2 separate regions of the Homo sapiens genome follow, and region 2 is linked to region 1. A link means that fine-mapping ties the variant in region 1 to the expression of a gene that starts in the linked region. Tissue or cell type: blood mononuclear cells. Region 1 holds a variant in brackets; the other region holds the start of a gene. All regions are shown on one strand. Distances are between the middles of the regions.

The links. PIP is the estimated chance that this variant, and not a neighbour inherited with it, causes the effect.
Region 2: DDA1 starts here. The variant in region 1 is fine-mapped to the expression of DDA1 in blood mononuclear cells (TOPMed, PIP above 0.99).

What each region holds. Positions count from the first base shown.
Region 1 is chr19:17,368,205-17,376,452 of GRCh38, forward strand. All of the region lies in intron 1 of PLVAP (plasmalemma vesicle associated protein), which reads right to left. Among named protein-coding and RNA genes, the nearest start is that of PLVAP, 5.0 kb to the right of the region's middle. The variant T/C (reference allele first, on the strand shown) is at 3,340.
Region 2 is chr19:17,304,661-17,312,660 of GRCh38, forward strand. DDA1 (DET1 and DDB1 associated 1) reads left to right here and starts at 4,903. Exons shown (of 5, transcript NM_024050.6): 1 at 4,903-4,997. The coding sequence starts at 4,995. It overlaps MRPL34 (mitochondrial ribosomal protein L34), which reads left to right and starts at 1,212. Exons shown (of 2, transcript NM_023937.4): 1 at 1,212-1,297; 2 at 1,506-2,183. The coding sequence starts at 1,233. The coding sequence ends at 1,719. RefSeq lists enhancers at 1,156-1,235, 4,206-4,767, 4,489-4,678, 4,768-5,331, 7,557-8,000 and silencers at 1,466-1,525, 5,119-5,218.

The DNA.
Region 1 (8,248 bases):
GGGATTACAGGCACGCACCACCATGCTTGGCTAATATTGTATTTTTTAGTAGAGACAGGGTTTCTCCATGTTGGCCAGGCTGGTCTCAAACTCCCATCCTCAGGTGATCCGCCCACCTCGGCCTCCTAAAGTGCTAGGATTACAGGTGTGAGCCACCGCACTCGGCCGAACTAATTTTTGTATTTTTAGTAGAGACAGGGTTTCACCATGTTGGCCAGGCTGGTTTCAAACTCCTGACCTCAGGTGATTCGCCCCCCTCGGCCTCCCAAAGTGCTGGGATTATAGTCGTGAGCCACCTCTCCTGGCAGAAGTAGGGTCTTTAGAGAGGTAATTAAGTTAAGGTGAGGTCCTTAGGGTGGGTCCTAATCCAACATGACTGATGTCCTTATAAAGAGAAGAGATTTGGACACAGAGACACGGACAGAAGGAAGACCAAGAGCAGACACAGGAAGAAGATGCCACCTGCAAGCCAAGTAGAAAGACCTGGAACAGGCCGGCTATGGTGGCTCACGCCTGTAATCCCAGCACTCTGGGAGGCCAAGGCGGGTGGATCACGAGGTCAAGAGTTCAAGAGCAACCTGGCCAAGATGGTGAAATCCCATCTCTACTAAAAATACAAAAAAATTAGCAGGGCATGTTGGTGGGCACCCGTAATCTCAGCTACTGGGGAGGCTGAGGCAGAGAATTGCTTGAACTCGGGGAGGCGGAGGTTGCAGTGAGCCGAGATCGCGTCTCTGCACTCCAGTCCAGCCTGGGTGACAGAGCGAGACTCCGTCTCAAAAAAACAAACAAACAAACAAAAACCTGGAACAGATCCTTCCCTCACAGCCTCAGAAGGAACCAACCCCGCTAACACTTTGATCTTGGTACCACCCAGTCTGTAATACCTTGTCATGGAAGCCCTAGCAAATTAATACAAATGCTAACACCATCTCATGAGGCAAACAACAGTCTTTAAAAAAAACCTTTTTTTGTTTTTTTTTTTGTTGTTGTTTTTGAGACAGGGTTTTTTGCTCTGTCACCCAGCCTGGAGTGCAGTGGCACGATCTCGGCTCACTGTAACCTCCGTCTCCCGGGTTCAAGTGATTCCCCAGCCTCAGCCTCTCGAGTAGCTGGGATTACAGGTGTGCACCACCATACCTGGCTAATTTTTGTATTTTTAGTAGAGACAGGGTTTCGCCATGTTGGCCAGGCTGGTCTCGAACTCCTAACCTCAAGTGATCTGCCCACCACCAGCCTGGCCAACATGGCGAAACCCCATCTTTGCTAAAAATACAAAAATTAGCCAGGCATGGAAGCGCATGCTTGTAGTCCCAGCTATTTGGGAGTCTGAGCCAGGAGACTCGCTTGAATCCGGGAGGCGGAGGTTGCAGTGAGATGAGATTGTGCCACCACACTCCAACCTGGGGAACAGAGTGAGACTCTATGTCCAAAAAAAAAAAAAAGAAAAATTAAAATTAAATTAAATAAGATATGCAAATGGCCAAAGAGCATATCAAAAGACATTCAAAATCGGCTGGGCGCGGTGGCTCACACCTATAATCCCAGCACTTTGGGAGGCCAAGACAGGTGGATCACCTGAGGTTGGGCATTCGAGACCAGCCTGGCCAACATGGTGAAACCCCATCTCTACTAAAAATACAAAAAAATTAGCCAGGCCTGGTGGCAGGTGCCTGTAATCCCAGCTACTTGGGAGGCTGAGGCAGAAGAATTGCTTGAACCCGGGAGATGGAGGTTGCAGTGAGCCACGATCACACCATTGCACTCCAGCCTGGGTGACAGAGCGAGAGTCTGTCTAAAAAAAAAAAAAAAAAAAAAAAAAGAAAGATATTCAAAATCATTAGCCATTACGGAAATGCAAATCAGGACCACAGTGAGATACCACTACACACCCACGAGGGTGGCTATTTTAAAAACCCATAAACCCCCAAAATGAACAGTAACAGGTGTTGATGAGGATGTGGGGAAATCAGAATTCTCAGACAGTACTAGTGAGAATGTACAATGTTGCAACGGCTTTGGGAAAGTCTGGCAGTTCCTCAAAATGTTAAACATAGTTACCACGTGACCCAGAAACTCTACTTCTCAGCATATACCCAGAGCAATGGAAACACATCCTCACATCAACTTGCCAGGAATGTCCACAGCCGCTCGATTCACAGTAGCCAAAGGTGGAAAGAACCCAAATGCCTGTCAGCAGATGAATTAACGCACAAAATGTGTTCCTTCCATACATAGAACATGATTCAGCCATAAAAAGGAAGGAAGCACTGATCCATGTTGCAGTGTGTGTGAACCCCAAAAACATGATGCCTAAGTGAGAGAAGCCGGACACAAAAGGCCACAGAATGTGAGATTCCACTGACATGAAATGCCCAGAACAGGCAAATCCATAGAGACAGGAAGCAGGTTGGTGGCTGTCAGGGATTGGGGGAGGGGAATGGGAAGTGACTGCTGATGGGGACGTGGGTTTTCTTTTGGGAAGGTGAAAATGTTCTAAAATAATGTTCTAAAATGGATCGTGGTGATCAATGTACAACTCTGTGAATTTACAAAAAAATCATCAAATTGGCTGGGCGCGGTGGCTCACGCCTGTAATCTCAGCACTTTGGGAGGCCGAGGCGGGCGGATCACGAGGTCAGGAGATCTAGACCATCCTGGCTAACACGGTGAAACCCCATCTCTACTAAAAATACAAAAAATTAGCCAGGCGTGGTGGCGGGCGCCTGTAGTCCCAGCTACTCGGGAGGCTGAGGCAGGAGAATGGCGTGAACCTGGGAGGCAGAGCTTGCAATGAGCTGAGATCGCGCCACTGCACTCCAGCCTGGGCGACAGAGCGAGACTCCATCTCAAAACAAACAAACAAACAAACAAAAACATCAAATTGTACACTTTAAATAGGTGGATTGTAAAATACATGAATTATATATCAATAAAGCTGTTTTTAAAAATTATTTATTATTATTATTATTATTGAGATGGAGTCTCGCTCTGTGGCCCAGGCTAGAGTGCAGCGGTGTGATCTCAGCTCACTGCAACCTCTACTTCCTGGGTTCAAGTGATTCTCATGCCTCAGCCTCCCAAGTAGCTGGGAATACAGGGGTGCACCACCATGACCAGCTAATTTTTGTATTTTAGTAGAGACGGGGTTGCACCATGTTAGCCAGGTGGTTTCGAACTCCTGACCTCAAGTGATCCACTGGCCTCAGTCTCCTGCCTTGACTTCCCAAAGTGCTGGAATTACAGACGTGAGCTGCCACGCCCGGCCAGCTATTTTTATTTTAATTTAATTTTATTTTTTTTGAGACATGGTCTCACTCTGCCACCCAGGCTGGAGTG[T/C]GGTGGTGTGATCACAGCTCACTGCAGCCTCAGCCTCCCCAGGCTCGGGCAATCCTCCCACCTCAGTCTCTCAAGTAGCTGGGATTACAGGCACGTGCCACCACTCCTGGCTAATTTTTTATAGAGATGGGGTCTCACCATGTTGCCCAGGCTGGTCTTAAACTGCTGAGCTCAAGCAATCCACCCACCTTGGCCTCCCAAAATGTTGGGATTACAGGTGTGAACCACCACGCCTGGCCAGCAAAGCTGTTTTTAAAGAAAGTGTTCACAATTTAACAAACTAAAGCCATGCCTTTCAAACTTTGGAAGAGAACCCTCTGCAGAAATATAATAAGACATGAAGAATCAGGAGAGTTTGTCTTTCTGCAACTCTCTGTCCTTCATCCTTTTGCAGTTGGCCCTGGGTGAATGTCCTGGGGGGACATGGGGAATGCCTTCTGTTCTCAAAAGCCTTAGTCATTAGGAGGCTGAGGTGGGAACACTGCTTGAGGCTGGGAGTTCGAGACCAGCCTCGGCAATGTAGTGACACCATGTCTCTAAAAAAAAAAAAAAAAAAAAAGGATGTGATTTTTAAGTTTCTTTTTTAATTTTTAGTTTATTTTTTATAGAGAAGAGGTGTCTTGGGAGGCTGAGGCAGGTGGATCACCTGAGATCAGGAGTTCCAGACCAGCCTGGCCAACATGGGGAAACCCCATCTCTACTAAAAATACAAAAAATTAGCTGGGTTTGGTGGCGGGTGCCTGTAATCCCAGCTACTCGGGAGGCTGAGGTAGGAGAATCACTTGAACCCGGGAGGCAGAGGTTGTAGGGAGCTGAGATTGCGCCACTGCAATCCAGCCTGGGCGACAGAGTGAAACTCTGTGTCAAAAATAGTAATAATAATAATAAAATAATTAAATAATGTTTTTATTTATTTATTTATTTATTTTTTGAGACGGAGTCTCGCTCTGTCGCCCAGGCTGGAGTGCAGTGGCGCAATCTCGGCTCACTGCAAGCTCCGCCTCCCGGGTTCATGCCATTCTCCTGCCTCAGCCTCCCGAGTAGCTGGGACTACAGGCGCCCACCACCACACCTGGCTAATTTTTCGTATTTTTAGTAGAGACGGGGTTTCACTGTGTTAGCCAGCATGGTCTCGATCTCCTGACCTAGTGATCCACCCACCTCGGCCTCCCGAAGTGTTGGGATTATAGGTGTGAGCCACTGCACCCGGCCAATAATTTTTTTTTAAATGAAAAGACAGGCCAGGTGCAGTGGCTCACACCTGTAATCCCAGCACTGGGAGGCCAAGGCGGGCGGATCACGAGGTCAGGAAATTGAGGCCATCCTGGTTAACATAGTGAAACCCCGTCTCTACTAAAAATACAAAAAAAAAATTAGCAGGGCATGTTGGCGGGCACCTGTAGACCCAGCTACTCGGGAGGCTAAGGCAGGGGAATTGCTTGAACCCAGGAGGCAGAGGTTGCAGTGAGTGGATACCGCGCCATTGCACCCCAGCCTTGGCGACAGAGCTAGACTCTGTCTCAAAAAAAAAAAAAAAAAAAAAAAAAAAAGAAAGAAAAGACACCAGTTAGCCAGGTTCAGGTCTGAGAGGGGAGGCAGGGCTCTAATCTGAGGATCTAAGGGGCAGGCAGGACCCTATTGGGAGGGTCTGAGGGAGGGGCACAGTTATGCCCTGGGGACTGAGGGGTGTTCCACCCCATCTTGGGGGGCTGAGGTGAGACCTACCATACTCTGGGCATCTGGGGAGACGGTGCTTTGCCCCGGGGTTTTGGCGGATAGAGACAGGGCCCTACCCCTGGGGCTCTGGGCGAGGGGTTGAGGTGGAGGTAGGGCCCCGCCATTAGGGGTCTGAGGTGAGGAGACTGAGTTCTGCCTTGAGCAGGACTGAGGGGGCTGAGCTTACCTTCCTGCCCAGTGCGGACGGCTGGGTGGTCTGAGGTCCTATGGGAGGTCTGTCTTTGCCACTGCCTGGGCCCTGGCCAGCCAGGTCACCTCCTTGGAAGACCCTGAAGCTGCCTCTTCAGCCTTCCCTCACCCCACCCTCCCATCTCTCACCCACCTCACCCTTAAGGAGAGAGCCCCACACCTGCTCCCCACAATGTCTCAGGGCAGGCGGGACACCCCCTGGATGAAGTTGTGTCTGAGAACACGGGGATAATTGTCTAGTGAGTTTGACACAAGCCGGGGTGCGAGAGTGGCGCGATGGTCTCCAGGAGACCCCAGATTTGCAGCTGTGACTTTGCCCAGAGAGCCCGCCTGTTTCTGCCACCTCAAGAAAGTCACCTCCCCTCTCATGCCTTCACTTTCCTGCCTGCAAAGGGTTTAAAACTTCTGCTGCCCAGGCGCAATGGCTCACTCCTGTAATCTCAACACTTTGGGAGGCCAAGGCAGGTGGATCACTTGAAGGCAGGAGTTTGAGACCAGCCTGGCCAACATGGTGAAACCCCATCTCTACTAAAAATACAAAACTTAGCCGGGCATGGTGGGGCGCACCTGCAATCCCAGCTACTCGGGAGGCTGAGGCAACAGAATCGCTTGAGCCTGGGAGGCAGTGGTTGCAGTGAGCCGAGACCTTCCACTGCACTCCAGCCTTGGCAACAGAGGGAGACCCTGTCTCAAACAAAACAAAATAAAACAAAACAGCCGGGAACGGTGGCTCACGCCTGTAATCCCAGCACTTTGGGAGGCCGAGGCGGGTGGATCACAGGGTCAGGAGATCCAGACCATCCTGGCTAACACAGTGAAACCCGGTCTCTACTAAAAATAGAAAAATTAGCCAGGCATGACGGCGGGCGCCTGTAGTCCCAGCTACTCAGGAGGTTGAGGCAGGAGAATGGTATGAACGCAGAAGGTGGGGCTTGCAGTGAGCCGAGACTGCGCCACTGCACTCCAGCCTGGGTGAAAGAGTGAGACTCCATCTCAAACAAAACAAAACAACAAAAGCTTCTCCCTACTTCCCGGGATTTGGCAATGAGTTAATATTTCTAAATTCAACACCCAGCATACAGCAAATATGGACTGTTTATACATGCTAGAATTGAACAGGAACAAAACACTGTGAACTTTTATTCAGTCCATCCTTTTTTTGTTTTTTTTTTTCCATTCAGGGTCTCACTCAGTCGCCCAGGCTGGAGTACAGTGGCACTATCTTGGCTCACTGCAGCCTTGACCTCCTGGGCTCAAGTGATCCTCCCACCTCAGCCTCCCAAGTAGCTGGGACTACTGGCATGTGCCACCATGCCTGACTAATTTTTGTATGTATGTATGTATGTATGTATGTATGTATTTATTTTTAGACAGAGTCTCCCTCTGTTGCCCAGGCTGGAGTGCAGTAGTGAGATCTCGGCTCACTGCAATCTCTGCCTCCCAGGTTCAAGTGATTCTCCTGCCTCAGCCTCCCGAGTAGCTGGGACTACAGGCACATACCACCATACCCGGCTAATAATTTTTGTATTTTTAGTACAGACGGGGTTTCACTAGGTTGGCCAGGCTGGTCTCAAATTTCTGACCTCAAGTGATCCACCCACCTTGGCCTCTCACAGTGCTGGGATTACAGGTGTTAGCCAGTATGCCTGGCCTAATTTTTGTACTTTTTGTACAGACAGGGTTTCACCATGTTGCCCAGGTTGGTCTCAAATTCCTGGACTCAGGTGGTCCTCCTGCCTCGGTCTCCCAAAGTGCTGGGATTACAGGTGTGAGCTACTGTAGCCGGTCTTCAGCCACTTATTTGCAGCTTGTGTGTGCTGGACCCCTTTGATTAGTGCTGGCACATTCTGGGAGCTTCATGCATAGTAAGTTATGGGCTCAGGACTGCCAATTAACACACAGGAGGAGAATTAAACTTGGATTCCAAAAAGACAATGAATATTATTTTCAAAATTATATCTCAAATATTGCATGGAATATACTTACAGTTTAAAAAAAATGTTGCTGGCTGGGAATGGTGGCTCATGCCTGTAATCTCAGCACTTTAGGAGGGTGAGCCTAGGAGTTCAAGACCAGCCTCAGCAGCATAGTGAGATTCTGTCTCTAAAAAAAAGTTAGCCAGGGCACCAGGTCAGGGCACGGTGGCTCATGCCTGTAATCCCAGCACTATGGGAGGCCGAGGTGGGTGGCTCACTTGAGGTCAGGAGTTTGAGACCAGCCTGGCAAACATGGTGAAACCCCGTCTCTACTAAAAATACAAAAATTAGCTGGCATGGTTGCACACGCCTGTAATCCCAGCTACTCAGGAGGCTGAGGCAGGAGAATCACTTGAACCTGGGAGGTGGAGGTTGCAGTGAGGCGAGATTGTGCCACTGCACTTCAGCCTGGGTGACAGAGCGAGACTCCGTCTCAAAAAAAAAAAAAAAAATTGCCAGGTGTGGTGGTGCCCACCTGTAATCTCAGCACTTTGGGAGGTCCAGGAGGGAGGATTGTTTGAGCCCAGGAGTTCAAGACCAGCCTGATCAACATAGCGAGACCCCACGTCTACTAAAAATAAAAAATGACCTGGGCATAGTGGCATGTCCATAGTGCCAGCTACTCAAAAGGCTGAGGCAGGAGGATTGCTGGAGCCCAGGATGTCAAGGCTTCAGTGAGCTATGCTCACATCACTGTGCTCCAGCCTGGGTGACAGAGTGAGACCCTGCCTCCAAAAAAAAGAAAAGAAATAAAAAAAATTTAGCTGGACGCAGTGCCCCACACCTGTAATCCCAGCAGTTTGGGAGGCTGGGGTGAGAGGATTGCTTGAGCCCAGGAGTTCGAGACTAGCCTGGGCAACATAGTGAGACCTCATCTCTGCTAAATATAAACATATTAGCTGGGTGTGGTGGTGCACGCCTGTAGTCCCAGCTACTCAGGAGGCTGAGGCAAGAGGATCACTTGAGTCCAGGAGATTGAGGTTGCAGTGAGCTGTGATAGCAATTGC
Region 2 (8,000 bases), 64 kb before region 1:
CCCCAAGCTGGCACTTGTAGGGATACAGCCCCAGGCCCCTGGCCCTTGAGGAGCCCTTGAACTTGGGGGAGAGTCAAGGGAAAGCAGTCGGGCCAGAAGAATGGACAGCGGTTGAGAGAAGACGACTCCTTTTTTTTTTGAGAAAGGATCTCACTCCGTTGCCCAGGCTGCAGTGCATTGGCGCTATCATTGCTCACTACAGCCTGGATCTCCTGGGTTCAGGGAATCCTCCCACCTCACCTTCAAGTACTTGAGACTATAGGTGGTTGCTACCATGTCCCCAGGCTGGTCTCAAACTCCTGGCCCCAAGGGATCCTCCCTCCTCAGCCTCCCAAAATGCTGGAATTACAGGCATGAGCCACACCTCACTCAGCCCTTGGAGAGGAAAGGATTTTTAAAGGGCGGATAGGGGAACACCAGGCAGAGAGGAGAGTGTGGCTGAAATGTAAGATGGTGTGTGTAGAGGGTTTTGCATGCCTGATGGAAGGGCTGAGCAGGTTTTACCTGGGGAAATGGGGAGCCAAGGATAGTGTGTGAGTAGGGGAGGGGTTCAGATCTGAGTATCAGAAAATTTTTCTTCCTTTTTTTTTTTTTTTTTTTTGGTTCTAACAACAGAGGAGAATTCTTCTAGGGCCCAAAATGGGGGCAAGATTGCCAAAGACAAGCTTGCAATCCCTGAGTTTACAGATTGAGAAAGCCCAGAGTGGCGCAGGGACCACCCCAAGGACACGCAGCGAGCTTGAACTCAGGCCTCCTCGGCTTCCTGCCAAGAGGCGGAGACTTGGCTGCAGCCAGGACAAGCTGCCAGCCAGCTGTGTGCCATCTGCCCAGCTCCCGCTGGGGGCGGGAAGACCAACCAGCCGCTTCCTGCAGCTGCCACCAGCTGCGCCCGGCCACCGCGGGGCACCCTCTGCCGGTCAATAGGAGAGAGAACTACAGCTCAGCTGCCAGCTGACCGCGGGAGATAATGCCTTGTGCGCACGCGCTTGCTCAGAAGGCGCCGTTCGCCGGCTACCTGTTGGTGTGTATGCAGAGCATCCCTGTGCCCCGCGGATATAGACTGGCGCGCCTCTGTTGCGCAGGCGCAGAACTACAACTTCAGGGTTTTCCCCAACGGCCTCTTTTTTGCACGTTAGGAGAAACTACATTTCCCATAATCCTTTGTTCCAGGGCTGGAGCGGCTCTGGGCTCCGGAATCGCCCGCAGCCGGTACTGCGGGACCCACTGCGGATATGGCTGTCTTGGCTGGATCCCTGTTGGGCCCCACGAGTAGGTCGGCAGCGTTGCTGGGTGGCAGGTAAGTCCTCAGGGGGACCCTTCCCCAAATCAGGGAATAAGGGCGGCTTCGGAGGCTGGCGCCACTCTTCACTGCCCGCGTGACCTGCCAGTGCCTTGCGCATTTTGCAGCCAGGCTCTGTCTCCGGGAGCCGAGGCTCAGAGAGGTTGAGCGCCAAGGTCACCCAGCGCCCCGTCTGACCTTTCTCGCCGTCCCTCTACCCACGCAGGTGGCTCCAGCCCCGGGCCTGGCTGGGGTTCCCAGACGCCTGGGGCCTCCCCACCCCGCAGCAGGCCCGGGGCAAGGCTCGCGGGAATGAGTATCAGCCGAGCAACATCAAACGCAAGAACAAGCACGGCTGGGTCCGGCGCCTGAGCACGCCGGCCGGCGTGCAGGTCATCCTTCGCCGAATGCTCAAGGGCCGCAAGTCGCTGAGCCATTGAGGATCGCGACGCAGTCGGCGGGACCCTCATGGAAGCATCGCCCTCGCCTCGGACCTTGCCTGGCGCTATTTTTGCAGGGAGCTGGGGAGCAGGAACGCCTCGGACCTGAGTGCTCTCCATATTGTGGGGTTGAAGTCTGGATGGGAGCTTGCCAAGTCCCTTTTTAGGCTTTTTAATTAGGAAGCATTTCGAACCTGCGCAACAGACCAAAGAACAGTACAAAGAACATCCGTGTACCCAGTACCCTGACTACCGACTACCTACAACCCGTCCCTGCCCCATCCTGAGTTCTTTTGAAGCTGATCTCAGGCATCGGATTATTTCTTCTGTAAATATTTCAGAATGTATCTCTCCAAGATGAGAGCTCATTAAAAGACAATTACAAAGCTTATCACATCCAAAAGAATTATCAATAATTTTGAAATATTATTAAACGTGTAATAAATGTTCAAAGTTCCACTTGCCTTATATGTGTCATAACTCTTTTTTTTTTTTGAGACAGTTTCCCTTTTGTTGCCCAGGTTGGAGTGCAATGGGGGGATCTCGGCTCATTAAAACCTCCGCCTTGCGGGTTCAAGCGATTCTCCTGCCTCACCCTCCCGAGTAGCTGGGATTACAGGCATGCGCCACCACGCCCGGCTAATTTTGTATTTTTAGTAGAGATGGGGTTTCTCCATGTTGGTCAGGCTGGTCTCGAGCTCCCGACCTCAGGTGATCCGCCCTCCTCTGCCTCCCAAAGTGCTGGGATTACAGGCATGAACCACTGCGCTCTGTCCCCCAGGCTGGAGTGCAGTGGCACGATCTCGGCTCACTGCAAACTCCCTCTCCTGGGTTCAAGCAATCTCCTGCCTCAGCCTCCCGAATAGCTGGGATTATAGGCGCCCACCACCACACCCGGCTAATTTTTGTATTTTTAGTAGAGACGGGGTTTCAACCATGTTGGCCAGGCTGGTCTCGAACTCCTGACCTCAGGTGATCTGCCTGCCTCGGCCTCCCAAAGTGCTGGGATTACAGGTGTGAGCCGTCATGCCCAGCCTGTGTCATAAATTTTATAGGTCTGGGAAGACTGGTGGAAAACTGTGTGTGTGTGCGGGGGGGTGTTTGTTTTTGAAACAGGGTCTCGCTCTGTCACCCAGGCTGGAGTGCAGTTGTCGGATCCCTGCTTACTGCAACCTCTGCCTCCTGGGTTCAAGCAATTCTGGTGCCTCAGCCTCCCAAGTAGCTGGGATTACAGGTGCATGCCACCACGCCCAGCTAATTTATGTATTTTTAGTAGAGGGGAGTTTCACCATGTTGACCAGGCTGGTCTTGAACTCCAGCCCATAAGGAGTTTGAATCTTCCACTTGTCCCTTGGGGATGTTTGATTTTGAGCAAGAATTTAACACTGTGAGGTGCATTTGTCGCCTATAAAATGCAGTGCTGGTTTCTCCTCTGCTCTGTTGCTGTTGGAGTAATAATACTTAGTAGCTTCCACTTAGCAACTTCACTGTGCAATTGCTGTGTGCTGGGTGCCCATTCTTTGCCCTGGAAGTCAGGAAGGCAGTTTGGACACAGAGGTGTCAGGGCTGGGAGGGGGATTGTGAGGGCTGTAGGACTTCAGGGAAGGTACCTGACTTGCCTTTTTGAAGAATGCAGTCAGGGAAGTCTTGGAGGAAATGGCAAGGTCTGGGAGAGCCCAGACATAGAAGGAATTGGTTAGAGGTGAGGACACAGGTGGGCAATGAAGACCGCAGGTGCCCATAAATGGGGCCAAGGAGGTGGGATTGAATACTAGGGAGTTACGGGAGGTGGTTGAGCAAGACGGTGTCGAGGAGGAGCTAGGGAGTGTTATGGTTCTTATCTTCTAGGGCTGCTTTAAAAACGTAATAAACACAAGAAGATGCCGGCACGATGGCTCCCAGAACTTTGGGAAGCCAAGTCTGGAGGATTGCTTGAGGCCAGAAGTTCGAGACCAGCTTGGGAAACATAGCAAGACCCCTGTGTCTTTTTTTTTTTTTTCTTTTGAGAGGGAGTTTAGCTCTTGTTGCCCAGACTGGACTGTAGTGGCTTAATCTCGGCTGACTGACACCTCCGCCTTCTGGTTTTAAGCGATTCTCCTGCCTCAGCCTCTTGAGTAGCTGGGATGACAGGCGCCCGCCACCACGCCCGGCTAATTTTTGTATTTTAGTAGAGATGGGGTTTCACCATGTTGGCCAGGCTGGTCTCAAACTCCTGACCTCGTGATCCGCCCGCCTCGGCTTCCCAAAGTGCTGGGATTGCTGGGATTACAGGCGTGAGCCACCGTGCCCCGCCTTTTTTTTTTTGAGACAGAGTCTCCCTCTGTCCGCCAGGCTGGAGTGCAGTGGCGCGATCTCAGCTCACTGCAAGATCCGCCTCACTCACGGTTCACGCCGTTGTCCTGCTTCGGCCTCCGGAGTAGCTGGGACTACAGGCGTCCGCCACCACGCCCGGCTAATTTTTTGTATTTTTAGTAGAGACGTGGTTTCACCGTGTTAGCCAGGACGGTCTCGATCTCCTGACCTCGTGATCCACCCGCGTCGGCCTCCCAAAGTGCTGGGATTACAGGCGTGAGCCACTGCGCCCGGCTGGCTTTTTTTTTTTTTTTTTGAGACTGATTTTCGCTCTTGTTGCCCAGGCTGGAGTGCAATGGCACGATCTTGGCTCACTGCAACCTCCGCCTCCCGGGTTCAAGTGATTCTCCTGCCTCAGCCTCCCTACTAGCTGGAATTACAGGCGCAGAGATGGGGTTTCACCATGCTGGCCAGGCTGGTCTCGAACTGCTGACCTCAGGCGATCTACCCGCCTCGGCCTCCCAAAGTGCTAAGATTACAGGAGTGAGCCACCGCACCCGGCCGAACCTCGCATCTTAAAAACACACAGACACACAAAAGCTCTAGAGAGCCTCGCGGAGCTGTAAACTACAGCTCCCAAGAGACTTCGCGGCCGAGGCCTCCGCCCACTTCCGGATCTCACTTTCATTGCTTCCAAGTACCGGGAGGTGCTTTGCTTCTTCAACCGAACTTGACCACAATGGGAGGAGGCGTGGCAACCAATGGGCGCATGAGTTAGCTGGATGCGGCCAATGGAAGCGTGCAAAGCGCTCCTATGTGGGGGCGGGGCTAGACTGCACACCAATGACAGGGAGGTGGTGGCGCCATCAGTGTGGGCTGTGCCGTGGCTGGAAGTTACTGTGAGGCGGCGGCTAAGAAGGCGGCTCTGGTGGCGGCGGTGGAGGCTGAGGCGGCGGCCGAGGCGGCGACGGAGGAAACAGAAGATGGTGAGGATGGCCTCCAGGCCCCCACTCCCCCTCTGCTAGACAAAATGGCGCTGTGGTCCCACCCACCTCTAGTATCCCCCTAGGCCCCTCTCCGTTCTGCCCGGTCCCCTCAGGTCCGGCCCGCCCCTCCCACTCACCTGTGACCTTCGACCCCCGGACCCTACCGAGAGCTTCCTGCTGATCCCACTGCCACTCCTTCTCCGACCCCTGACCCCATCCAGGATACCAAGCCCTGACAACTCATTCATTTCCGGGTTGCGGCTCCCCCCGGAAATCGTCTGGGGTGGGGATGGGGTCCCGTAAGACCCCCTGGTCTGGCCTCGTTCTCAGCACGCCGGACCTGGATCTCTTCAGTTCAGGAGAATTTGGGAGGCCGGCCTGGGCCCCGGGGCGGGGGAGGGGGCTTGGCACCGCGATATGCAGGGCTTTGTCGCCAAAGGAAGTGCGACATCGCCGATTGTCCCGGTTCCCCGGGCCCTGACCCCACCTCCACCATTCTGGGCCCTTACCCGCCTCTAAGAATGAAAAACTTTTATCTCCGATCCGCATGGATTGTCCCTGTGAAATGAGGGTAGCAGTAGTCTGAACCTCTTAGGGTGGTGACAATTTAGGTAACTGACGTCGTAAAGGACTCAGGATAGTGAATGCTCAACAGATGAGCTGGGTGACTCGAGGCCAGTGACGTTCTCTTCTAGCTGTCCCCTCATTATGAAGTGTGGATCGTCCCCACCTGGCTGTTGGAAGGTTGAAATTCCTTCAGGGTTCCTCAGTCATCCTGGAATTTGGGTCTGGTGGTTCTTCGGGGTTCAGTCTCCCCACCTGAAAAGTGGGATGGTGACCCACCCTCAGAGTGGAACTAAAGCCTCTCCACAACCCCCATTAGTTGGCATCCTGAGGGCTGGGAAGGGTGATGGGAAGCTTGGTCAAGATACCTCAAGTCTCCTTTGTCCCCTGACCCAGAGTCCCAGCCCACAATCCACAGTCCTTGGGATGTGGTGGGGATGAAAGGAAGACTCCCTTTCAGGAAGGAAATGGGAAGGTGGGTTCCTAGTGTGCGGGTCCCCAAGCCTGGGAGTTGTCCTTGATACCTTGGTACAGTCTCATCCCTACAGCCAATCATAAGTGGATTAGATTGTCTCTGCCTTCTGAACACACCTGAATTCATCCATGGCTTCATGCCCTGTTGCAGGTACTGCCACTTCCCACCTGCATACCTGTCCCAGCTTCTTCCCTGGTCTCCTAGCCTTGCTCTCACCCCTTTGGCAGTTCATAATTCACCTGAACCAGAAGGAACTTTTTTTTTGGAGTCAGGGTCTCACTCTGGCGCCCAGACTGGAGGCTCAAGAGATCCCCACACCAGGCTCATTTTTGTACTTTTTGGAGAGATGGGGATTCCCTATGTTGCCCAGGCTGGTCTCAAACTCCTGGGCTCAAGTGATCCTGCCTCAGCCTCCCAAAGTGCTGGTATTACAGGTGTGAGGCACTGCATGGGGCCTGAGAAGGAGGTTGTTTTTTTTTTTTCTTTTGAGATGGAGTCTTGCTCTGTCGCCCAGGCTGGAGTGCAGTGGCATGATCTCGGCTCACTGGAACCTCCGCCTCCTGGGTTCAAGCCATTCTCCTGCCTCAGCCTCCCAAGTAGGTGGGACCCACCACCATGCCCGGCTAATTTTTGTATTTCTAGTAGAGACAGGTTTTCACCATATTGGCCAGGCTGGTCTTGAACTCCTGACCTTGTGATCCACCCGCTTCGGACTCCCAAAGTGCTGGGAGTACAGGTGTGAGCCACTGCGCCCGGCCAGAAGGAGCTTTTAAAGATGTGCATCAAATGATACCACTTTCTAGCCTATAAAATGCTCCAGGAACCCTGGCGGCTCCCCTCCTCACCCTGAGGCCCCTGGCCACCTCTATGACCTTATCTCCACTCTCTTCTCCACTCTGTCTGTGAGCTTCAGCCACCCTGGCCTTGTTTTCACTTCCTCACACTCCAGGTTCCTGCTACCCCAGGGCCTTTACACCTGCTGCTCTTTCTGCTCGGAACACTCTTCCTCCTGTGATCGAGGTCATTCCTGACTTTGGGGGGCCCCCAGTTCTCTGCTATTAGTGTACTGCTTCTCTTTCTCATCTCTTTGTTGGGTCTCTGGCAGGCTACCTGCAGTGGGACTGGCACACAGGTGTCCAGTGCGTGTCTGCTGAGGCACCTGTGAGGGCCCAGCCGTGGCTGGCATTTGTCTGGAATGAGGCCTCCCCCACCCCCTGCCCCCATGTCTCGAGGCCTTGTTTTCCAGCTTAGCATGACAGGAAGGCTGCACGTACCCTGCCTTCATTCATTTGTCCAACGCAGACATGTTGATCCTAAAGGCTGCCCCTGAGGGAGCTCTGTGCAAAGCATTCCCCTTGTTGTCTTATGACTCAGAGTAACCCTGGGAGGTGGCCCTGTTGGAATGCGTCTCTTCACAGGGAGGCCCAGAGGCTGGGAAGTCCCTCGTCCCAGGTCACACAACCAGGGACGGGCTAAGCCAGGATTGAGAGCAGAATGCCCGGAGTACCTGCACCTCTCGCCACTCAGCCACCGGGCCCTGTGTGAGCCCGGCCAGGGTTCAGTCAGCCCTGTCCTGTCCTCTTCCCTTGGGGAGGTACCAGTCCAGCCAGGGAGGTGGACATGTAAGCAGATGACCTCGCCGGGGTGTGAGGGAGGCTCTGGGAGAGGCTCCCGAAGTGTCGGGGGAACAAAGGGGCCAGGGAGGGTGTTGGAGCTGGTGGGGAGGTTAGCAGGTATTTGCCACATGGAGGCATGAGGGGCATTCCTAGAGGGTGTGTGTGGCAGAGGGTGTGTATGATGGGAGTCCAGCAGGGGCAAGCTGGGCCAGGGCTGCGAAGGGGGACAGGGACCCCTCCTCACCCTTCAGGTCTCAGTGCCTGCATCCCTGCGTCTGGGCAGCCCTCCTTTATCCCCTAAATGGGCCAGAGCTCTGCCTTGCACCTCACACTGCGCCCTCGAGGCAC